Homo sapiens: one gene and its partners. The protein of the gene in region 1 purifies or fractionates together with the protein of each later gene. This does not show direct contact. Each region holds a gene or a part of one and is shown on either strand. Other genes may lie near its edges.

The links.
Region 2: the proteins of CELA3A (region 1) and POTEF purify together in Homo sapiens (affinity purification with mass spectrometry; 2 studies listed by BioGRID and IntAct, with this or other methods). This does not show direct contact.
Region 3: the proteins of CELA3A (region 1) and HELZ purify together in Homo sapiens (affinity purification with mass spectrometry; 2 studies listed by BioGRID and IntAct, with this or other methods). This does not show direct contact.
Region 4: the proteins of CELA3A (region 1) and PPIP5K2 purify together in Homo sapiens (affinity purification with mass spectrometry; 2 studies listed by BioGRID and IntAct, with this or other methods). This does not show direct contact.

The regions. Positions count from the first base shown.
Region 1 is NC_000001.11:21,997,180-22,004,693, forward strand, and holds the start of CELA3A (chymotrypsin-like elastase family member 3A preproprotein), read left to right. Parts: upstream 1-4,477; 5' UTR 4,478-4,495; coding exon 4,496-4,538; intron 4,539-5,823; coding exon 5,824-5,909; intron 5,910-7,514. UniProt on the Homo sapiens protein: Efficient protease with alanine specificity but only little elastolytic activity.
Region 2 is NC_000002.12:130,119,206-130,126,242, reverse strand, and holds part of POTEF (POTE ankyrin domain family member F), read left to right. Parts: intron 1-4,944; exon of another isoform or gene 4,945-5,634; 5' UTR 5,635-5,727; coding exon 5,728-6,248; intron 6,249-7,037.
Region 3 is NC_000017.11:67,069,915-67,074,204, forward strand, and holds the end of HELZ (probable helicase with zinc finger domain), read right to left. Parts: 3' UTR 530-4,290; downstream 1-529. UniProt on the Homo sapiens protein: May act as a helicase that plays a role in RNA metabolism in multiple tissues and organs within the developing embryo.
Region 4 is NC_000005.10:103,207,268-103,213,303, forward strand, and holds the end of PPIP5K2 (inositol hexakisphosphate and diphosphoinositol-pentakisphosphate kinase 2), read left to right. Parts: 3' UTR 1-5,532; downstream 5,533-6,036. UniProt on the Homo sapiens protein: Bifunctional inositol kinase that acts in concert with the IP6K kinases IP6K1, IP6K2 and IP6K3 to synthesize the diphosphate group-containing inositol pyrophosphates diphosphoinositol pentakisphosphate, PP-InsP5, and bis-diphosphoinositol tetrakisphosphate, (PP)2-InsP4.

The DNA of each region.
Region 1 (7,514 bases):
TGAGACCCCATCTCTACTAAAAATACAAAAAATTAGCCGGGCGTGGTGGTACATGCCTGTAACCCCAGCTACTTGGGAGGCTGAGGCAGGAGAATTGCTTTAACCTGGGAGGCAGAGGTTGCAGTGAGCTGAGATCGTGCCATTGCACTCCAGTCTGGCACGACTCATCTCAAAAAAAAAAAAAAGAGCAAGACAAGAGCAAGACTCGTCTCAAAAAAAAAAAAAAATGCTGGGCGTGGTGGCTCACGACTGTAATCCCACACTTTGGGAGGCCAAGGTGGGTGGATCACCTGAGGTTAGGAGTTTGAGAACAGCCTGGCCAATGTGGTGAAACCCTGCCTCTACTAAAAATCCAAAAATTAGCCTGGTGTGGTGGCAGGTGCCTGTAATCCCAGCTACCTGGGAGGCTGAGGGCAGAAGAATCACTTGAACCCGGGAGGCGAAGGTGGCAGTGAGCCGAGATCTAGCCATTGCACTCCAGCCTGGGGGACAAGAGTGAGACTTCGTCTCCAAAAAAAAAAAAAAATTATGATCTTGCTCATACAGGCAGGAAACAAATTTAGTAGGACTATAACATTTCTATACCAGGCTGGTTTATGAGTTACAACAATATAGCTAGTTAAAATTTGTCTTCTTTTCCATACACTTTGTTTTATTTTCCTTTCCAATTTGTGTATTTAACATTCTATCTTAGATAATGTGATAGTCATGAAGTCTTTGTGTGAGAGAGAAAAGAAGGAAGTTAATCTATAATGAAGATTGACTGTTGAGAGGGAAACAGTCTGCCCTGTCACCCTTTAGTCATTTACAACATTTTATAAAACAATGTAGTTAAGGAAAAGCTAATCGATAACACAAACAAAAGTTATGCCTTCCTGTTTACATTACTCAGGTCCCATAATCTCATTCCCTTAAGTCTAAGGTATTTTAAAGTTCCAACAGCTTAGATTTTGAATATCTTATTTTCACAGAAACTACAGGGCAACAAGGCACCAGAGTCCCGGACTTAGGACCACTGTGTGTGATTCACCGTGAACACTGGCATATTAAAGGCTCTGAGAAGTCCTGTAGGAAAGGACAATTTGAACTTTGTTTGAGCTCATATTTTCCAATCCCATCTGACCTTTAGTTCTTCACTGAGTGCCCACTGGGTTATATTCTGGGAGCCGAGGCCACAGCAGTGAACAAAGCACACAAAACCCCCCGCCCCATGGGGGCTCCGTTCTAGTGGGTCCATTTATCATCAAACATCTATTAATATCTCTAGAATGTGCCCATCAGGACACCATCCAGATGCTGCTGCGCTTTTCCAGGCCACACAGAGGGGACACCCTCCAGGTGCATCCTGCATGAATATCAGGCTCAACCGTGCTTTCAGGGTAGGAAGCGGAGGGCATTTGAAGAGTCCTTTCCCTTCCTTCATTCATTTGTTGTCTCCTTGAATAAATGCTGTTGAAAACCTACCATGTGCCAGGCTCCCTTCTAGGTACTGGGAATCGGAAGATGAATAAGATAAAGTTTTGATCCTCAAAGAGCTTCCTGTGGGGTGGGAACTGGAAAGAATGGAACTCCCCCAGTCCCGGGAAAAAGGCTCACCAGCTTCCCCTCCGTCCCCTCGCCAGCTTCCCCGCCCTCCCTCTCCTTCCCAGACTGACCTCCTAATTTTGCATACTCTCCGACCTAACCTCCACCTCCCATTCAGGAAATGGCTTGCTTTGCTTCAGGCTGAGGCCTAAAGTAGATCTAACCCCTCCATCTTCCCTCTTGCGGGGCAGGTGTTGGAAGGAGGTTCATCTTCAGGGATTTCACTCAAGCTACTCCTAGGCCAGAAAACCCTCGGAGAGTTAATCAGCCGTGCAACTGCCAGTGTCAGTCCATAAGGCCTTGAAGTAACCAATCAGGCAGGGGTTGTGGTGGGACAGTTGGCGTCAGGGAGCCCCTCTCCCTGGGGACCCAGCAGAGCCGACAGAGAGGCTGGGACTTGCTCAAGGTCACCTGGGTAAGAAGCCGGGAAGGCTTCTCGGTTGAAGTTGGGGGAGGGAGAGTGGACCCTCCCGTGTCCGTGGGCTACCCTTCACCAGGCCAAGCAGTAACAAACCAGGGAAACTTGACCAAGTCCTGGCTTTTCTCTGGGTCATCATTTTCTTCTTCTTTTTTTTTTTTTTGTGACAGAGTTTTGCTCTTATTGCCCAGGCTGGAGTGCAATGGCACGATCTCGGCTCACCGCAAACTCCGCCTCCCAGGTTCAAGCGATTTTCCTGCCTCACCCTCCCTAGTAGCTGGGATTACAGGCATGTGCCACCACACCCGGCTAATTTTGTGTTTTTAGTAGAGATGGGGTTTCTCCATGTTGGTCAGGCTGGTCTCGAACTCCTGACCTCAGGTGGTCCACCCTCCTCGGCCTCCCAAAGTGTTGGGATTACAGGCGTGAGCCACTGTGCCTGGCCCATCATTTTCCCTTCTGTCAAATAAAAGTGGTTGGATTAGATCGCGTTTTAGGCCCTGTGGGTTTCAGACACTCTACAGTGGAATCTGGGCTTATCGGACCTAACCCTATCTCTCCCCAGCCACCTCCTGGGCCCCTCCCTCCTTCTTCCCTGGCGTAGGGTCTGGGGAATGGCTCAGAGCTTTCAAGCTGAGCAAACATGTCCGGGCACATAGGGAACAGAGGGTAGGGGAGGGCATGGCTATTTTTATCACAGTATAAAGGATTTTCACAGCTGCTTCCCTTGTGTCCACACACGTTCCACGAACCCAGGCTATCAGAGTGGCTAGGCTGTGATTGGAGGGGGTTCACTCCTAAAACAAAACCTGCTCAGCAAGATGCCTGACTTTCCCCCAGGAGGGATCTATTTAAATTGCCCCGTCTGGCCGGATGCAGTGGCTCATGCCTGTAATCCCAGTACTTTGGGAGGTCGAGGTGGGTGGATCACCAGAGGTCAGGAGTTGGAGACCAGCCTGGCCAACATGGTGAAACCCCGTCTCTACTAAAAATACAAAAATTAGCCGGGCGTGGTGGTGCGCGCCTGTAATCCCAGCTACTCAGGAGGCTGAGGCAGGAGAATCGCTTGAACCCGTGAGGTGGAGGTTGCAGTGAGCCAAGATCGCACCACTATAAAAAAAAAAATCTATTGTGTGAATATGCTACACATATTGACCTATGAACCTTGATGGACGTGGGAGTTGTTTCTAGGTCTTTGCTGTTGAGTTTTGAGAACAGGGGCTGCGGCAAACAATCTCATCCACACCTCCTGGAGCACATGCCTAAGGTTTTCTCACGGTATAGACCTAGGAGGGAAACGGCTGGATCACCTGTGAATTCCACTTTCGGGGTCGCCTGCTCTTTGACCTCATCTCCCACCCCTCTCTACTTTGACTACCAAGCTCCTGTCACACTGGCCTCCCCTTCCTTGAACAAGTCAAGCCCATTGCAGCCTCCAGAACTTCGCACCTGCTGTCGCCTCCCTTCAGAGCGCGTTTCTTTCAGGGATTCCCGTGGCTGGCTTTTACTTATCCTCAGGACTCCATCAGATATGACCTCCTCAGCCCAAATGTCACTTTCTCTGTCCCCCCCATCTAAATGACTTACTCCCATTCCTACCCCAATCACCTATGTTTCATTTTCTTTTCTTCTCTGTTTTTTTTTTTGGTTTTGTTTTTGTTTTTTGAGACAGTGTTGCTCTGTGGCCCAGGCTGGAGTGCAGTGGCATGATCTCGGCTCTCTGTAGCCTCTGCCTCTCCGCTCCCAGGTTCAAGTGATTCTCCTCCCTCAGCCTCCCAGTAGCTAGGATTACAGGTGCTGGGATTACAGGTGCTCACCACCACACCTGGCTAATTTTTGTAGTTTTAGTAGAGATAGGGTTTCATCATGTCTCGAACTTCTGACCTCAAGTGATCCTCCCACCTTGGCCTCCCAAAGCGCTGGGATCACAGGTGTGAGCCACCGCTCCTGGCCTAGACTCAAACTCTAGAAGGGCTGAGACCATGCATTTTTCACAGCTGTATCCCCTAGAACAGTGCCTGATACATAGAGAAAAAGTGCTCAACAAGAATTTTTTTGTGGAGGTGGGTACTAATATAAATCTCATGTTAGAGAGCAGAAAACTGAGACTCAGAGAGGTTAAGCCATGCGCCCAAAGTCGCAGAGCTTGAAGGTGGCAGAACCAGGATTGAACCGTGGTCTGCCCGGTTCCAGTGCCCCTGTTCTTTCCGAAAGAGGAGGTCTTGTCCTGACATGAGCTTTTCTTCCTGAACTCTTGTTATCAGTTGGCCACTCCACACCACCTGTCCAGCCACCTGTTGGAGGGAACGCTAGGTCCTCCCTTTGGCTGTCACTTGTCCATCTGCAGCAGGCGAGGACTGTGGCCTTGGACCATGGGAGACCTGGAGTTCCACCACCTGTTCTGGGAGTGGGGCCCAATCAGCCCCCCTGCTTACCTTCTGCCCTATATTAGAGCCCCAGGCTCTGTGCCCTTTTCCTATCATCACAAAACTCATGATGCTCCGGCTGCTCAGTTCCCTCCTCCTTGTGGCCGTTGGTAAGACCCCAACCTGTCTGTGTGCTCCCTGGGCTGCCCTGGACTAGGAATCCTTGAAATCTACCACTCGCTCTGAGTCCCATGACATGCTATGCCTGGTTCCACAGGAGGGGGTCTCAGCTTGTACCCGGGGGCATGACTGTAGGGGCTTTCAGCTTATGATGGAGCAGGAGAGTGGAGGGGAAGCTGTGGATGGTGAAAGACCCCCAAAGGGCTGTGGTGGAAGTCCTTGATGGGGGCAGTAAACAAAGTCAAACGGTTAAGAGTTTGGACTGTGTGGTTGGACTTCTTGGGTTGGAATTTCCACAGTTCTACTTACCACTCCAACTCTCCTCTCACTCCCCCTACCTGGCTCCATATTCTATGCTCTGGCCTTTTCCTGGTCTCTCTGCCATATTACATTCCAGCTCAGGGCCACCTCTTCCAAACAGCCTCCCTTGACTGACAATAATGGTAACAGATAACATTGATTGAGTGCTTACTATGCCAGGCAGAATGTTTAGGGATTTTCTTATACTTTCTCATGTAATTCTCACAACAGCCTCAGGAGATCAGTACTATCATTATCCCCCATTTTACTGACCCTCAAGGAAGTAAAGTAGCTTATCATAGAACAAAAGGCAGAGCTGCACTTAATGTTTTTATTTTTTGCTTTTTTTTTGTAGAGATGGGGTCTTGCTTTGTTGCCCAGACTGGTCTCAAAATCCTGGCCTCAAGCAATCCTACCACCTTAGCCTCCTGAGTAGCTGAGATTATAGGCACATGCCACCATACCTGGCTACTTTATTTTATTGTACTTTATTTTTCTAGAGATGAGGTCTTGCTATGTTGCCCAGGCTGGTCTCAAACTCCCGGGCTCAAGCGATCCTCCCGCCTCGGCCTCTCAGAGCACTAGGATTACAGGTGTGAACCACCACACACAGCCCAGAGCTGCACTTTGAACCCAGGAAGTCCTTCTTTAAAGCCTCCACTCTGTATGACAATAGCTCTCACTTTTTGAGGGCTCATCGAGGGCCAGGCATTGTTCTAAGTGTATCAAGCTCTTCAATCCTCCCAATGAAGGAGGCCACATTTGAATCTCTATCCCTGGACTCCTGGGATTCTGGAAAGCCCTGCTCTAGTTTAAATGTTCACTGTTCATATGTGGTTACTGAGGTCCAGAGGGCGAAAGGGGCTTGCATGGGGTCACACAGCCAGTTGAAGGCATGGCTTGGACTGGGACCCTGGCCTCCTCTTTGCTTTTGGGGACCCTCCAGCTGATTGACAGCTCTCCTCTCCCCTCTAGCCTCAGGCTATGGCCCACCTTCCTCTCACTCTTCCAGCCGCGTTGTCCATGGTGAGGATGCGGTCCCCTACAGCTGGCCCTGGCAGGTAAGAGCAATAGCAGCTGCCCTCATTCCCACCGTGGGCTCTGGACCCTAAGCTCTAATGGCGTGGCATCCAGCCTTGACACCATTGCTCCCTTTGCAATGTCCACTTCAGCTTCCAAAGACCAGGCAGCCCTTGGACCATCTACTTCACGGGGAGGTTTTGCCCGTTTCATCTGTAACCCTCACTGGGCTATTTGCAACTTAAAATTGGAATCGGGGGTGAAGGAAATGCTAAACTCAAGGAGTTGGCACACTGATGGTGGAATTTCAGGCACTGTGTTGACGAAGTGAGATTTTGAGAGACTCATTTCTAGATTCCTAGGATGATACTACAGGGCTTTGAGGTCTGAAAGCAATAAGGGAGTGAGGGATCTTGTAAGGCCAGTGGAGGGAAGCTCAGAAGGCTGGACTTGATGTGCTGTGGCTATTTAAATTTAATTAAATTAGGCCAGGTGCGGTGGCTCACGCCTGTAATCCCAGCTACTCAGGAGGCTGAGGCAGGAGAATCCCTTGAACCTGGGAGTTGGAGGTTGCAGTGAGACAAGATTGCACCACTGCACTCCAGCCCCGGGCAACAGAGTGAGACTCTGTCTCAAAAAAAAAAATTAAATTAAATTATTATTACTATTATTATTGAGACAGAGTTTCACTCTTGTTGCCCAGGCTGAAGTGCAATGGCACAATCTTGGCTCACTGCAAACTCTGCCACCCGGGTTCAAGCAATTCTCCTACCTCACCTCCCAAGTAGCTGGGATTACAGGCACGCGCCACCAAGCCCGGCTAATTTTGTATTTTTAGTAGAGACAGGGTTTCACTGTGTTGGCCAGGCCAGTCTGGAGCTTCTGACCTCAGGTGATCCACCTGCCTCGGCCTCTCAAAGTGCTGGGATTACAGGTGTGAGTCACTGCACCCAGCTGAAATTTACTTACATTAAAAATGTTAACAATTCATTTCCTCAGTGCTTTTTTCTTTTCTTTTCTTTTCTTTGTTTTTTTTTTTTTTGAGACAGGGTCTTGCTGTGTTGCCCAGGCTGGAGTGCAGTGGTGTGATCTCAGCTTACTGCAGCCTTGACCTCCTAGGTCCAAGCAATAATCCCACCTCAGCCTCCTGTGTAGCTAGGACTACAGGCATGCGCCACCATGCCCAGCTAATTTTTATACATTGTTGTAGAGATGGGGTCTCACTATGTTGCCCAGGCTTGCCTCGAACTTCTGAGCTCCAGTGATCCTCCTGTCTTGACCTCCCACAGTGCTGGGATTATAGGCGTAAGCCACCATGCTTGGCCTGCTTGCCACATTTCAAATGTTCAATAGTCACATGTGGCTAGTGGCTACCATATTGGACAGCAAAGATATAGAACATTCCCATGATTATGGGAAGTTTTATCGGAGAGGGTCAGCAGGCTTATTCTGTAAATGGCCAGAGAGTGAATATTTTAGGTTATTTGATGGTTTGGATAGTAATGACTTGACTGTGCCATGGTAGCATGAAAGCAGACACAAACAATACAGAAATGAATGTGACTATTTCCAGGACATCTTTATTACAAAAACAGACCAGAAGCCTGATGTGCCCCACTGTCCACAGTTTGCTAACCCTGGTCTAG
Region 2 (7,037 bases), on another chromosome or scaffold:
CAACCTCCGCTTCCTGGGTTCAAGCAAGTCTCCTGCCTCAGCCTCCTGAGTAACTGGGATTGCAGGCATGTGCCACCATGCCCAGCTAACTTTGTGTTTTTAATAGAGATGGGTTTTCTCTATGTTGGTCAGGCTGGTCTTGAACTCCCGACTTCAAGTGATCCACCTGTCTCAGCTTCCCAAAGTGCTGGGATTGGAGGTGTGAGCCACCACGCCTGGCTCTCTGCCACCATTTTCAAGAGTATTGTCATCTGCCTGAGCAAACCTGGTTCATCACCACCTCTTTGCAAGAGAAAAAGGAAGTCGGGAGAATTGTGTGTAATTTTTTTTTTTTTTGAGATGAAGTCTCGCTCTTGTCCCCCAGGCTGTAGTACGATGGCCCGATCTTGGCTCACTGCAACCCCTGCCTCCTGGGTGAAAGCAGTTCTCCTGCCTTGGCCCCCTGAGTAGCTGGGATTATAGGTGCCTGCCACCACGCCCGGCTACTTTTTGTATTTTTAGTAGAGATGGGGTTTCACCCTGTTGGCCAGGCTGGCCTAGAACACCTGACCTCAGGTGATCCACCCACCTCGGTCAGCTGTGTGTATTTTAAGGCAAAGATTCACAACCAAAAACAAGGCTTTATTAACTTTTGTATCTAAGAACCTGCAGTGTCGAGCCCTCTTTTATTCCTAGTATTACTACTTTAGGTGTGAACTTTTTATCTTTATTTTACTGATTCCTCTAGAAGTTTATGCATTTTCTTGACTGCTTTAAAGACAATCTATATTGTATCATTTTTCAAGCCCGTAGAAATGTGTAAGGCCTATAATTTGAACACTTGTTATTTTTAAGGTTATGAGCATGTAATATACCGTTGATACATGGAAGAATATGTATAAATACCACTAGATAGGTTATATTGAAGAGATAATATCTAAATTTTTGTCCAGAGTTGATGGGGTGCAGTTTTGTAGGTGTGTTTCTCAATACATTGTGTCCATGTTTTAAAGCATATAGAAATTTGAATACTGTTTAACCTCATATAGTCCTTGTTTATAGGTTTAATATTTCTAAAGACTAAAGACGTCACAGCTCCCTTTAAGATTCAGTAATACTAATAAAATTTGAGATATACAGGGTTAGAGTCCAACAAATTCAAAGGAAAATTGTTGAATTATATAGCCGTAGAGCAGGAATGAAACCCAGGTTCTAAGTTCCAAGGGGGCCATGAGCTACCATACAGGTGCATCAGTGACTGGGCATAGAGGTGGCAAAATTATTTAAGAGAGTGAGCTGTGGATCCTAATTATGTGAACATGAATTTTTGAACTGCATGGTGCCTCAGTTTATCCATCATTACAGTGGGGACAGTAGTAAGTTTTTCTTTTTCTGCTCAGTTGTCTGAATTATTACCCCAGTCTCTCTTGTTGCCACTCTTGATGCCCACATGAGAGGATCTAAGGTAATTTCTGACAACCTGGGACTCCTTAAGGAAAAACAGAAGGTTCCACAAACCCCATTTTAGGAGAAACCTCTGTTTTCCTCATGGAACCCCAAGAACTTTAAGCAGACAGGTCCCTCTCAAAAATCTAAGGCTCTGCTCTGTTTTGCCTTGCGTTGTCTGACCTTTTTGGTTTGGATGGGCATCAGAAATTAGTAGGGGAGAGAGATCTAAAGAAAATTGTGGATATGAAGATGTATTTATTGTAAGAAATGTTATGAAGGAAAGAAATGTTATATGAGAGAGGATCTTATATGGCAAATTGTTGTCCTAAAGTAGAATGACTAATTACAAAAGAGGGAAATACAGGACAGGTCAGATAAATTTAATCATGTTGTAGATAGTCTGTGGAAGTTGTGTTATGATTCATAAAGTGGGAAAGAAAAACTGAACAACTGCTAGATCTTTTCTTGTCTAGAAGTGTTGTGTATGTGATGTATATATAATGGCTCGGCTTAAAAGAAAATGAAAGCTCTTAAATATTTTGTAAGAAAAATAGAAGCTCTAATGCCTTTTATTTCATGTGACTTCAGTAATCTTTGGGAAATAAAGATGGTGTTAAAGTCAGTGGTAAAATAAAAATATCTTCAAAATTTATCCATTTGGTCTAACTTAAGTCAGAGGTTAAGTTTTAGAAGTGCTTTAATGTCATAAATTGATGCTTTGACTTTGGAAAATAGTTTTGTTTACCTGGTTTGGAGCCGTTAGATTTCTAGGTAAGGTCTCCGGACAGGTGGAGTTAGCCATGTCTCCTAGCTATGCTGGAAGGAGTCAGATTTTATCTGCAGTTCTGTCTTGTATCCTAGACTCTGCACCTGGTATGCAATTAAAACTTACTGCTGCTGCTAATCTCTGGGTTCCATTTAAAATCCTTCCATCACATGAATACTATCCCCTGTACTAAATTTTTCCACAATTAAATACTTAGAATCATTTTTGCTGACTTGACCCAACCATTAGTGATATATTTTAAAAATGCTTATAATGTGTCACAATATATTTAGCAAATGTAGGGAATGACATTTTTACTTTCTTCAGCATTTACATAGCATTTATGTAGCAATGCTATCTCAAGTATTTTTAATCATTTAAATGTTAGATAATAGATATGTTTTTTATTCCTTTTTTCTATGTAAATAAATATAATTATGAGATATTTAGTAAATAGTATCAATTGCATATGTCACTTACAGAATATACAATGAAATTAGGATTATTTTTATACACTACATCATATTTACTTGTTGGCTTTCCAATAACTTAGAAATAGTATTCTGGATTAACTGTGTGACTCATGAGAGAGGGAGTTTGTGCAATTATAGTCTTTACAAATTTTTACTAGATTTTTCAAGACTTATGCTAGAACTTTGAGAACAAGGTAATAAATAAGCATATCTGTTAATATCACCTTTGGTCAACTCTTGGCTAGACCCAATGATAATGTAGGAATTAACATAATTTTTCTACTAAAGGTGTTGGATTTGTTCCGAGAGACCACAGTTCAAAGTCATTGACAAAGAAAGTTTAAAAATTGTTAGATTAAAACCTTTTAGTGTGTTTGAAATTGTTTTGTAGAAAAATATCCTGGTTTGCATTGATAGGTTTTTTTTTAAATAACAACTAGACCAAGAGAAAGGGAGAGTAGTGATAAATGTCCATGTTTTCGAGTTGAAAAGTAACAATCAGTGTATTACAACAGATGGATTTGATGTCAAATTACAAATGCTGAGAACGTTATATGTAACTGACTTGCCAGAGTAATTATACAAGGCAAAGAAAGGAAAGGCATCTAAATAGGAAGGGAAGGGGTGAGATTGTCTGTGTTTTAGACTCCACAAAAAACCCATTACAGCTGATAAACACTATATTCAATAAAGTTGAGAGTTACAAAATTAACATTGGCTTCTATACACCAATGACAAACTGTTATCTGAAAAATAAGGTAATTCCATTTATAATAGCAACAAAACAAATATATAAGTAAATCAAAGAGCAAGGAGTAATTTTAATGAAGGATGTGAACGATTTGTATACTGAAAATTATAGCACATTGATGAAAGAAATTGAAAGTGACAAATAGAAAAAGTCCTATATCAATTGAAAAAATTAATATTGTCAAAATTTCAATGCTACTCAAAGCATTCTACAGATTAAATGCAACCGCTGTCAAATTCCAATGTCATTCTTCACAGAAATAGAAAAATTAGTCCTAAAATCTGAATGGAACCACAAAAGATGCTGAAAAACGAAAGCAATCTTTAGCAAAAAGAACAAACCTGGAGGCATCAGACTACCTAATCTTTGACAAAGCAAACAAGAAAATGGGAAAGGACACCCTATTCAACATATGCTGCTGGTATAATTGGCAAGCCACATGCAGAAAAATGAAGCCGTTCTTCAAAGGTTAAATACAGAATTACCACATGACTCAGTAAATTCACTCCTATGTATACACCAAAAATAAATTAAAACAAATGCCTTACACATAAAAGTATTTATAGCAACAAAAAGTAGGAAACAACAGAAATGTCCATGAATTTTGGAGTGGATTAATAAAATGTGGTCTGTCCATAAAATAAAATATTACTTGGCAATGAAAAAGAAAAACATATTAATACATGCTCCAAAAAGGATGAACATTGAAAACATGATAAATGAAAGTAGTAAGTCACACGTAACTATATTATTATGATTCCACTTACATGAAATGTCCAGAATAGGCAAATCCTTCCAGAATAGGCAAATTCTTAGGTAATAGATGGATGATTGCCTAGGGCTGGGAGAGGTTTAAAGGAAGAATGGGGAAAATAGGGAAAGATTGCTAATGGGTGCAAAGTTTCTTTTAAGGAGCATAAAAATGTTCTAAAATCATGGTGATTGTTTAACTAGTTAATACACTTAAAAAACTGAATTTTATACTTTAAATGAGTGAATTAAATAATATATAAATTGTATCTCAATGAACCTGTGAAAAAAGTTAAAAAATATGTGGTATGCATAAACAAAAAGTTCTTCATTTTATTTCCTAGGGTTTTGGGGAAAAGGTGGTGTTTGATTATATGAGTAAGTTCTTTAGAGGTGATTCAGGAGATTTTGGTGCACCCAACACCTGTGCAGTATACACTGTATACACTGCACCGGGGCAGGAGCTGGCTGCAATCCTGTGGCCCCAAATGCCCCCTTGCTGATGGCCTCGTGTTCTGGGTGCGGAGCAAAGAGGAGCAGGTGTTGAAGGCACCTCAGGCAGGCCCTGGGCTCGGTGGGCGTCTTGTGCTCCGCGATTTTGAGGCCATTTGCAGCCAGCTCCGTCAGCCCGAGCTCCCAGCTGCAGCTGCTGCCATGCACAACAGCACCGCCAGGAGTGTCCTGGGGGCTTTTTTCAAAGGAGGCTGTCAGCATCCTCAAGTTCCAGACGCTTAGCCCCAGTCCTCCTTTAAGAGGCTTTTTTTTTTTCACCAGAGGCTTCTCAGTGGCTTGAAAGCTCAGCTGACTCCCACGAAGTTTGCCGGAACTCAAGGCTGTCAGTGACATTCGTGGCGCCAAGACTTAAGCAGGCGCGTTGCATGCATCGGCCAGTGTCTGTGCCACGTGCCCTGACGCCACCTGAGATAAGCACGCCGCACGCGCACGCGCACGCCGCGCGCACACGCCCGGCAGCAGCTTGGCTGGCTTGTAACGGCTTGCACGCGCACGCCGCACGCGCATAACGGTTTGGCCGGCCTGTAACGGCTTGCACGCGCACGCCGCACGCGCGTAACGGCTTGGCTGGCCTGTAATGGCTTGCACGCGCATGCTGCACGCGCTTTAACGGCTTGGCTGGCCTGTAGCGGCTTGGCTTGGCTTTGCGTTCTTGGCTTGGCTTGGCGTTGGTAGCTTGGATTGACGTTTCCTGCTTGGATTGACGTTTTCTCTCTCGTGTTCCTTTGCTGGGCTTGACCTTTTCTCTGCTGGGTTTGGCATTCCCTTGGGTGGGCTGGGTGTTTTCTTGGGGGCGGGGGTTGGCCCTTTCTGGGGTGGGCGTGGGGTCGCCCAGGGGGGGCGTGGGCTTTCCTCGGGTGGGTGTGGGTTTTCCCTGGGTGGGGTGGGCTGGGCTGGAATCCCCTGCTGGGGTTGGCAGGTTTTGGCTGGGATTGACTTTTCTCTTCAAACAGATTGGAAACCCGGAGTTACCTGCTAGTTGGTGAAACTGGTTGGTAGACGCGATCTGTTGGCTACTACTGGCTTCTCCTGGCTGTTAAAAGCAGATGGTGGTTGAGGTTGATTCCATGCCGGCTGCCTCTTCTGTGAAGAAGCCATTTGGTCTCAGGAGCAAGATGGGCAAGTGGTGCTGCCGTTGCTTCCCCTGCTGCAGGGAGAGCGGCAAGAGCAACGTGGGCACTTCTGGAGACCACGACGACTCTGCTATGAAGACACTCAGGAGCAAGATGGGCAAGTGGTGCCGCCACTGCTTCCCCTGCTGCAGGGGGAGTGGCAAGAGCAACGTGGGCGCTTCTGGAGACCACGACGACTCTGCTATGAAGACACTCAGGAACAAGATGGGCAAGTGGTGCTGCCACTGCTTCCCCTGCTGCAGGGGGAGCAGCAAGAGCAAGGTGGGCGCTTGGGGAGACTACGATGACAGTGCCTTCATGGAGCCCAGGTACCACGTCCGTGGAGAAGATCTGGACAAGCTCCACAGAGCTGCCTGGTGGGGTAAAGTCCCCAGAAAGGATCTCATCGTCATGCTCAGGGACACTGACGTGAACAAGCAGGACAAGCAAAAGAGGTAACCAGGCCTGGGCTGGGAGGAGGTGGGACGTGGGGGGATGATGGGGACATACCCTCCTGGCGGGGGAGGAGGGGGACCTGGCTTTCTCGCCTCCGCAGGCCTCACACCACCCTGGATGTGGAAACCTCAGAGAGGTCAGGGTACAGGGCCCTTTATGAACAGCAACACAAAAACAAAACTTTAGCTGATTTCCAATCATAATTTCCCTCATAGAACACTAATAGACTGTTTTAAAGTGATTTAACTTGCAAAATTAATTAAGTCAATGCAGCAGATTATTTTTAATCTACAGATTTTAAAACAATGTTCTATACATTATAGAAAAGTGTATATTGAGAACTAAGAACGAAGCCCCATAACACATCAACTTCAGGGCTAAATATTCTTCAAATAAAATCCAGTATGGATTTTATATCAATGTACAGTATGTAAATATGTTCTTTACTGAGGAACCTTAGAAGGAAACTGAAATGGGAAGATGGTTCCTGTGCTTGAACAGGAAGATTGAATTTTCTTAAGATGTGAGCTTTTTGGCTGGGCGCGGTGGCTCACGCCTGTAATCCCAGCACTTTGGGAGGCGGGCGGATCATGAGGTCAGGAGATTGAGACCATCCTGGCTAACACGGTGAAACCCTGTCTCTACTAAAAAATATAAAAAAAATTAGCCGGGTGCGGTGGTAGACGCCTGTAGTCCCGGCTACTCAGGAGGCTGAGGCAGGAGAATGGCGTGAACCCGGGAGGTGGAGCTTGCAGTGAGCCGAGATAGTGCCACTGCACTCCAGCCTG
Region 3 (4,290 bases), on another chromosome or scaffold:
CTTGACTCAGGGCAATTTTCTGCACAACCAGCATTTTTTTTTTTTTTTGGATTGTTGAATTAATGTTTGGCACGCATTACTGTGAAGTGCATGATTATACCTACATAATATATCACTACAAACTAGGTTTATGAGTTCTCAAATAAATTCTGGGCCGCATTAACAACTAAGTGACTTGTTAAGAGTAATTCAGGATAATTTTCTTAAATTTGTAAGATATTTGTTGAATGACTGTTTGAAAAGGGCTTATTTTCTCACTGACCACTGGAGATCTTTAAACTTTCAGGTAACACGTTTAAGTCTTAAAAGCATTACTGCTGAAGTTAGGGGATTTAAGCCAAGTCACAAATGTCTGGAAAGTAGAGTTAGAACTTTACAAATTCACACTGAGTTCTCAGTTACATTCGTTTTACCATTTACTATTAGGAATAAAATCAAAGGGCTGTGCTTAACTTCAGTCAGACCTTTGACCTTAAGGGCAGAAGGAAGCAGAGAATTATAGTTCACACATAATAAACACATCTCCAAATTATTAAAAAGGCATTTTATTATAAATACATTTTAGTTGTAGCAGTAAAATACATTTTGTTACCATGAATCTTTGAAAACAAAAGAACTTCACTGAGACAATGAGCACACTGTAGGAACTGTAGACCCCAAGTTGAAAACTTGTTCTATGGAACCAAAGTAGCTAACGTAATTCCAAAACTAAGTTAGAAAAGATAAAGACAAAGAAAGAAGAAAATAAAAACCCTAGAGAGTGGCTTTGGGGTTATTTTATGGTACAAAGTCACTTTTACTTTTAAGGATAAACTCTTTAGGTATTAGAGCCTCTTAGATGAGGTATCATTTACTGCAAAGAAAAAAAATTGTTATAATTTTGCCATAAGTTATGCCTATTTAGATGGCTGTATAACTGGTACTTTGAAGAGATGAACCTGACCACCTCAGTTTTGTACAGCTTCCCTCAGGAAGACTTCCCAAAATAAGACTCAGTATGAATTTGCTAAGTAACTGATCTATGAAGTTAGCTGAACAAGTTTAGATAAGAACTATATGTATGAAGCATTAAAAAAAAATCCTGTGTCACTAATAACAGGACCCTTTAATAAAATGCAAAACTCATTATCTTTATAATTTAGAAGAGAAGTATTTTAATCACCATATTTACCTAGGATACAACTACTACATATAGCCAGTACCTTTATGGGGTTTAAAGAATCAGGTCAGATGACTGGCACAGAAATCAGATACAGTACAATGTCATATACATGGATTTATAGGAAGCAGGCATGGTCTGGATTTATGAAAATCCAGGACCCTTCCTCTGTAAAGGGGGAGGCTGAGAAACATTCTCAGCTGCACTGACACTTTGGGACTTCAACCAGGACAAAGAGCCCTCTGACCTACTGAAAGATATAAAGAGGTCTTCGCATACAAGTTATCGTGCAAAGCAAAGTGTAAATAAACCGAAGCTCCCCTCTAAGTTGGGACTGCATAAAGGAACCCAGGCTGAAAATATAAACAATCCTCTCCAAAGGTGAGCAAGCCTTTTCAGTAGGAAGGACTGTGTCTTAAGAAAACTCCAAAGCTGTATATTCTACGATGGTCTTCACGTGTACTTTTACACCTAAGTCATTCTGTATTCTATTACCATAAAAATAGCTTTTTTTTGTCTTTCTAGTAGCTCAGTAAATTCAAAGGCAAACTAAAAACCAGAAGCAGAGCCCAGTACCCCCCAAGATGCAGTCCAGATAAAACAGCAACAACACACAAATTAAACAATACCCAAAGACCTGACAGGTTTATTATATTATAGGCAGTTTCTTTCTCAAAAATAACTTGCTCATACATGTGCACCTATGACTTATGAATAATTCATGCTGTGTAGGTGGTAGATCCCCCTAGGCTGTTTTGCAAACACATATAGATTTTTTTAAAGGTAGCAAAGTAATCAGAGACATTTATTTTCTGCCATATGTAACACTTCAGGCTCTCTCTAACACCTGCTGGCATGGCAGAGAATCTAAAATAACTTTGTTAACCTGAGAAACACATAATTTGAAAAACAAATCCTTTGCCCTCACCACCCTCCCCCACAAAAAAAAAAAATAATAATAACCATAAAAACTAAAACATTTGCCAGGCGCAGTGGCTCATGCCTGTAATCCCAACACTTTGGGAGCCCGAGGCGGGCAGATCATGAGGTCAAGAGATGGAGACCATCCTGGCCAACACGGTGAAACCCCGTCTCTACTAAAAAATACAAAAATTAGCTGGGCGTGGTGGCGCATGCCTGTAGTCCCAACTACTTGGGAGGCTGAGGCAGGAGAATCACTTGAAGCCGGGAGGCGGAGGTTGCAGTGAGCCGAGATCATGCCACTGTACTCCAGCCAGGGCAACAGAGCGAGACTCTGCCCCGAAGAAAAAAAAACAAAACTATTATTTTATTATTTAAGGATTATCTGTGGTTTTCGATGCTCCATGTCACTGCCATCTTAGGACAGGGACTCCTGCACTTAGTGCCTCGATACATGCTAGGTGCACTCTCATGGCATTCTGATGGCTTCTTTCCAGGATTCTCACTTCCATGCATGTGGATCAAGATTGACCCTAAGCACACCAAACAAATGCACAGCTTCCAGACTGATGTCCAGGCAGCAGCGTACACAAAAGCAAACTCACCCTAAAACCAAAGAGCTCCTTCACCCTACTGCGGAAGAGCAGTGCAGACCCCAGCAGGGGTGAGAGTGAGGAGGGGTGGTGGCCAATCCAAAGGGCCTGTCGCTCCATGGAGACCTTTCTCCACAAATGTTCCAGTCATGGCACCAGATTTATAAAAATGTCTCCAGAGATCAGTTTTTTACACTGAGTAAATAAATACATGGTTGAAAAGACGTTCAGACTCTGAAGGTCTCTGAGACTTTCAAACTGCGAGAATCAGACCCAGTGATTTTCAAAGTGTGGTTCCTGGACTGGCAGCATCAGCATCGCCTGGAAACTTGTTGGAAATGCAAATCATCAGGCTCCAGACCAAAATCAGAAATGCTGGGGGTGGGTCCAGCTATCTGAATTTTAACAAGACCTCGAGGCAATTCTGATACTGGCTGAAGTTTGAGAACCATTGCTCCATCCTGTTCACAATTCTCAAATCTTAAAACAGGACAGATCTGTAAATAGTACTATGTGACTTCTACTCTGTGTTGCAACCTATGTAATTTGCCACCCTTTCCCCTTTACTTCTCAAACATTAAAAAAGTATTAATGAAAACACTTCATAAAATCAAAAATTTCTTAAAAGGTAATATCGATTTCCCCTCCTCTACATAGTTCTAAGGCAGGCAATCACATGCTAGTATGCAAAGTAAAATACAGAAGAGACCTCATATATGAGGTAGAAACAGTTAAAAAGACTCCCCACGAACATAATGAAAATTTCATAATATTGTTTAATGAACTCATAGAATTATATAAAACTTACTATGCTTTATGCTTAATATCTGTATCAAAATAAAATCTCTCTGTTGAACAAATTGCAAATAAAGTCTGGTCTAATACTCTGATAACTGAAACTATATGAATGTCTCTGGGTTTTCTTAACACTCCAGTTTTAGACGCTTTAGACGACCACTGCGGAACTGGGTTTGGTATTTAACCACAGTTCACATTTCTAAGTCTAGATTCTTCTATTAGGTACCTCCCTCCAAAAAATTTTTAGAAACTCTGGTGACTGTTTCCTTAAACTTCACTCCAAAGTAGACATTCTCAATTGGTTCAAAAATTTTAAACGTTACATTAAAATTGTTTTTAAATCTCTTGAATCTCATATTCTAGTTTAAAGTAATAACAGGATGTGTTTAGTAAGATTCACTCCTTGCAACAATGGTCTTGACATTACTGATTAAAAAGGTATGAAAGTAGAAAGTGTGAATTTAGCAGCTTTAAAGTCTCAGCTAATAAATGTCCATCCTCAAGCAGATGGGAAATGTGAGGAGCATATCATAATGAGCATTTTCAAGACTAACATGCCAGTTACTCTTTCAAGATGGAGATGGTGTCTTTGTAAGTGATTGGCACCACTACGTGATATTTTGAACAAGAAATCGTAGATAGAACATTACCTATTCTTTCTAATTTCTAGGCGGTTTGAATGTGGATCAGATGGCAAAGAGTGGAGACAAATCAGATCCATTAAGACATTTATACCTTGAGATTCAGGAAGACATATAGCGCGGCAGTAGAAATTAAGGATTTTCATATGTTAAGGGGATGGTGAGCAAGAAATAATGT
Region 4 (6,036 bases), on another chromosome or scaffold:
TGCCAGCAGCATCGCCTCCAAACTGTGGCAGTCAAAAATGTCTCCAGACATTAGTAAATGTCTTTTGTGAGGGAAGAATTGACCCTAGTTAAGAACCACTGCCCTAAAGCACATGATTCTGTGGAAAAGAAGGATATATGACCAAAATCATCATTTTGGATAGTGAGGGCATGGATAATGGATACATAATCAGCAATGTATGCTGTATACTACACTTGCATTATGTTATTCACATTTGCTATAGTTCACTTGTTGTGCTAATGGTTTTTTCCTTCACTATGATTTTGAATTATATTTAATTTTAAAGTCTATATATATATATATATAGATCCTATCTGTTGACTCCTTGCTGTGAACAATATCCAATTAGTGTATTTTTTCCTCTACTGCACAGTTTTGGTTGATTATTTTTTCCTTTTCATTTCTTTTCTGAACTTTGTTAGCTTATGTTGCATTTCCTTTGGTTGTTTTGCTATGGTGTTTCTGATCAACTACATTTCTTTATGAACTCTATTTCCTTAAGTTCTTTGAGTTATGACAGTATATTTGGTCACATTTTTCATGTGCTCAGCTGATTCATTCTTTCCTGTTGAGTGGTTTTTATCTGCTAATTGTTTCTGCTTGTTCCATTTCTCCTTTTCTTGAAGTGTTTGTGCATGAACACTGTGCAGGTTTATTTTCAAGTATTACTTACCTTTATATGAGATAAATTTCTTTCTGGCTCATCTATTTGATACAATTTCTTTTTTGTTTGTTTTTGTTTTGTTTTTGTTGTTTTTTAAAATGCAATTTCATATGTTAGGTAGGTTGGCTTTTCTTTTTCTTTTTCTTTTTTTTTTTGAGATGGAGTTTTACTCTTGTTGCCTAGGCTGGAGTGCAGTGGCATGATCTCAGCTCACTGCAACCTCCACCTTCCAGTTTCAAATGATTCTCCTCCCTCAGCCTCCAGAGTAGCTGGGATTACAGGCGCCCGCCACCACGCCTGGCTAATTTTTGCATTTTTAGTAGAGACTGGGTTTCACCATGTTGGCCAGGCTGGTCTCGAACTCCTGACCTCATGATCTTCCTGCCTCAGCCTCCCAAAATGCTGGAATTACAGGCATGAGCCATCATGCCCGGCCGTAGGTTGGCATTTTAAGCTCACACAATCCTACCAAGGTGACAGTGAATCTCCTTATGACAGGATTGTGGGTCTGAGAGAGCTGTTGTAGCCTTTTACTCTCTCCAGTCAACAAAGATTGGCAACTACAGGGTTACCACCTTTGGAGTCTCTTTCCTCCTGTCTGCCACGTCTACAGACTACTGCTTGTCAATGTGATATGCATGTATTTTCTTCTTCAGCTTTGCCCCTCCTGCCACTGTACCAGACAATATCCAGGAAATCCCCTACTACTGACACTCATCCCATTTCCATTGTTTTAGAGAAGGAACTAGTTGTTGTTGTTTTTTTTTCCCTGTCTCAGATTATGTCATCTATTTTGGAGTATTTTGGTCTAATGACTTTGGCTGCGATATGGAGCTATCTGACCTTTACTGCACCTGGCAGCTCTATCTCCTATTTTGGGGTTGAGGTTAAAGTGTCTTCTAGTTTTGTTGAAGATAGTTTATGTTTCTCTTCATATTTGATGATAATTTTTTAAATTAAGACCTAATTTCTCCTTCATTTTCAAACTGGATATCATTTCTTTTGTGGTTAATATTCTTTGACAAGAAGGAAGAGGAGGAGGAAGAAGAACAAAAGAAGCCTGCCTCTCTTTAGACTGCCCATCTCAATTATATTTTAAAAATGAAGTTAATATCTGTCCTGCTAACAGTAGTGTTGTCAGAATCAAATGAAATAATATTTGGTAAACTATAAAGTGAAGACCAAATTTGAAGGACTATTTGTTTTTGTTGTAATAGAGTTGTATATAGTCCAGATGTCAACCAGGCCTCTTCAGCATTTTTATAGTCAAAGATGTACAAGATAGCTCCTAATGCTCTTTTATGGCTGCTCCTGTTGCCAGGGCAACAGCCTGCCTAGTAACAATCTAACAGACACCCCCCAAAAACCAAAAAATAAAGGTTATTCTAGCATCTTCTCCTTTTAAAAATCTTTAAAATAAGAGAATTCAGTTCTTCCCAAAGCAGTGTTTAAAAAAAAAAAGTATTTAAATAAAATCAAGGATACCATCCCACCCACCTATCTTACATTTTGTGTGGTATGAGTGGCACCATTGTGTGACCCAGGTAGGATAGTGGATGTACAGTTTAGATACCCATTTTAAAGCAGTTAGAAAGATGTAACTTGACAAGGAAAGCAGTCTCTTTTGTCATTCTACATTTAGTGCTTCAGGAGTACTTGATATATGGAAGGATTTTTTTAAAAAAAAGGAAAAATGAATATGCCTTCAGAAAGTTTTTTGCTGCTTTTAAAAGCCATAGATTTGTCTTAAGTTAGTCAATGCTGAATAGAAAGCTTGATGATAAAGGTGGGTGGGTGGATGGATGGATGGATGAATGAAGGAAAAATTAGGAGAAAAGAGAAAGCAGAGGAGGGGTGAGACAGAGAACAAAAGAACACAGGCTCTACTGTTAACAAAAAGCAGCATCGCTGATGTGTGGGGAATAAATTGGAAGTCATATCATTACGACTTTTTTTTCATGCCACATAGATATGCTGATTTGTCCAACAATGCCTGTACTCAAAAGTCATGACAATAAAATGAGACCTGGGAGTCCCAAATGTTATTAACTACCACAATTTTATATAACTGATTCTTCACTGGTCATCCAGAAGCCTTTTTGAAAGTCCCACTGCCATACCTGCCTCCTCGGTGAAATAGATGTAAAAGCCACAAAGAGAGAATCAATGAGCCACACTCATATTGGAAGCGAATGGAGTTGACTTCACCAGTGGGAAAAGCAATTACTTTTCAAAGTGAAAACTGATCAATTCACAACTCAAGGAAAGCATGGAGTAATTTCAGAACTCCAGTAAGAAGTGATAAATGTCTAGTTTGGAATCATGTGGCTGAAAATCTTACCATATGCTTTCCACAGGCTGAGCAAGAGGATAGATCATTGAATAGATGCTTTAATTCCATTTTTGACAATGAACCTTGTGCTTCTGAAAATATTTATATTTAACCATGAGGTTATGATGATTTTTTCTCTACACTTTTTGAGAAGCCTCTTCAGAAAAGAGCAAAGTTGTCTGCTCTAATGGATAGAATAAGGAGCTGGGAGAAAGGAGACCTGGGTATTAATCTCAGCTCTACCACTACATGGTAGAGCTATGTAGTGGTAGACTATCTGGGAGACTCTAGAATCTTTACCATTCCCTCTACTATTCCTAGCTCCCTTTTCTTTCATAGTCAACAAGTGCTTTTTGAACAATTATTGAGGTAAATAACATACCCTAAAAGTTAGTACTGATTCCCATTATCATGCTCTGTTGTTCCCTGGATGCTCTTTTGAGGAATTTACTTGGTTAATACAGTTAATAGTATAATACTTATAATAACAATTTTGAGAATTATCAGCATGAGACAATTTATTTGCATAATAGCTTTTTGTTATTATCCAGAATACATTTAGTTCTGGATTTTGTTTGATATTGTGAATGCAAACTATTTTTTTGTGTTAGCCTAAATAAAATGAAATACAGTTATGGAAATATTTCTGCTGCAAGAAAAGAATTACATACAACTAGTATACATATTTAGAGGTGCTGTAGTCTTCTAGACTGTAAAGGCAGATGGCCGTGAGTGGAAATCTGAGTGTATAGGATGTGTTTCGTGTTCCCACTGCATATGCATTATTACCCTTGTCTGAGTGGTTGTTTAAACTGACATCTGTAAAACTAATCTGTAAAGTGAGATCTGGGTTCTGACCTATCTCTTACAGTCCATAATGTTGTGATTCTAAGAATATTTCATTCCTTACTGCTTTCTGCCCTCCATTCTGACCAATGCTGCAACCACAAATAAAAACATTACTTACCCTATGAGAAAGACTAGACCTTATACTCATTTTATCTTAACAGTTTATTATAACTCATTTTGACCACTCCTCCCTCAAAAAAAATTGTCCCTAGAAAACTAGAGTGATCATAGGGATCAGATGACATGTTACTGGGTGAAGCCAGGAAGCTACCATATACATAGAAAAGTTAGTTGCCAAATATGGTGTGGGAATTTGGGAGGAATTTATCTGCTCAAAAACTCTCACCTACTTACTAGATATAGTGTTTGTAATGTTAGCCTTGGAGATTCTACCTTAAAAATATCATTGAGAAAGCTCAGAGAACTCCCAGGTAAACACACAGGTAGCCCCTTCTAAAATGCAAATGCCCTTTGAAGGCCAGCTTTATTAATCTTGCCATTAACCCCATAGTTAATCATATGCATTTCTCACAGTGACCTGAAAACAGGCATTCCTTCTCTAAATGTGTGCTGAATGCTGGTTATAAACCAGTTACTACACTAAGCCCTGATGATACAAATATGAAAAGTCCTGTTTCCAGGGAATTTACTTTCTAATGAGGAACCAAGTGCTCAAAAGCAGTCATAAAGTTCATGGCAAAATAACCCACATAATTAACTGCTTTGTTACAAAAACTTGGAAATATAGATAAAATATTTATTTTGGAAATATATGTTACAGGTGAAAAGCAAGAATTAAAACTAGTTATCTGAATGTAAAAGGAATCAACGGCTAAATCAAGCTTAAAGTCTTCCTGTCCAAGGGATATGAAAGGTACCTCAACCTTTGGTTTTGGTTTTGGTTTTGGTTTTGTTTTTTTGGTCAACATGAATTATAGCTAGGGGAAGAGATAAACAGGGGGTTAGGTTGTAGATTATATGCATGACAGATTGCTGGAATTGGGCTCCATTCACAAAGGAGGGAGCAGGAAAGGGTTTCTCTTGACTGGACCACAAATATAAAATCTCATGCCCTCTCATTATCTTGATAAGCCCTATAGGTCCATAAAAGAAATAAAATGCCAAAACATACCATGAGGACACTTTCACAATCCAGGGCACACACATGACTCCCGCAATAGGAAACCACACTGAAGACATTCTCACAATTTAAAACAAGTTGTAAACTACAGGAAACAGTTGGCATCCCAGGAGAGTTGTTGCCTGAGGAACTAGATGGTGGTATGTTATTCTGGCATATAGGGAACAGAATAAGACATGAGGGTAGGAAGAGGTTTTTAAAAGCAAAGTTAGGCATTCAATGATGACTTCATAAATGTGCCTGGGCTGGCCTTTAATGGAAGGCTTTAATTTAGGGAACTTAAAGAATTTCATAATATTGGAGTATAAACTGCTGGAAATAAGGATGCTATTTAATAGACTCTCTTAGATTTTTCATAAAATGCTAATAGAATCCCAAAGGAAGTGTGTATTCTAAAATGTTATTGTGTATGTTATAAAAGCTTTGTAAAATAAAGTGATGTTAAGCTACTATTGTAAAGTTAAAAATTTTTTCAGTCATCTGTAATCTCATTACCCAAGTAAAACTGTTTTCATTTTTCCATTATCCCTTTTAGTTGTTTATTTCCATTACCCTTAGGCATGTTAATGTAGTTGCAATCATTGTATTGTGAAAAAATTTGTCTTTCCTAAATTCTTTATATTGGACAATATTTCCTATGTTACAAAATATTTATAAAGTTCATAAATATCACTTTAAAATTTTGGCATTTTTCTAAAAATTTTAAAATTTTTATTAGAGTAATACATACATATAATCTAGAAGGTCAAATGTAATTCACCTATATAACAAACTTGCATTTGTACCCCTGAAACTAAAATAAAAGTTAAAAAAAAAAGGGAAAGAAACTTTGAGCTGAAAAAGTGGCCGCTATAATGATGTGAAATGGCATCTTCAAAATTTTGGTGGTGGTGGTGGTGGGTAACATAATTTATTCCTTAGTGGGAAAGACTTGTTTATCTTCTAACAATGGGAAGCTTGAGAATTAAGTGACATACCAAAGTATGTCAAAGTGCTTTGGTTCCTTGCCTCTTTTTTTCCCTTTACCTA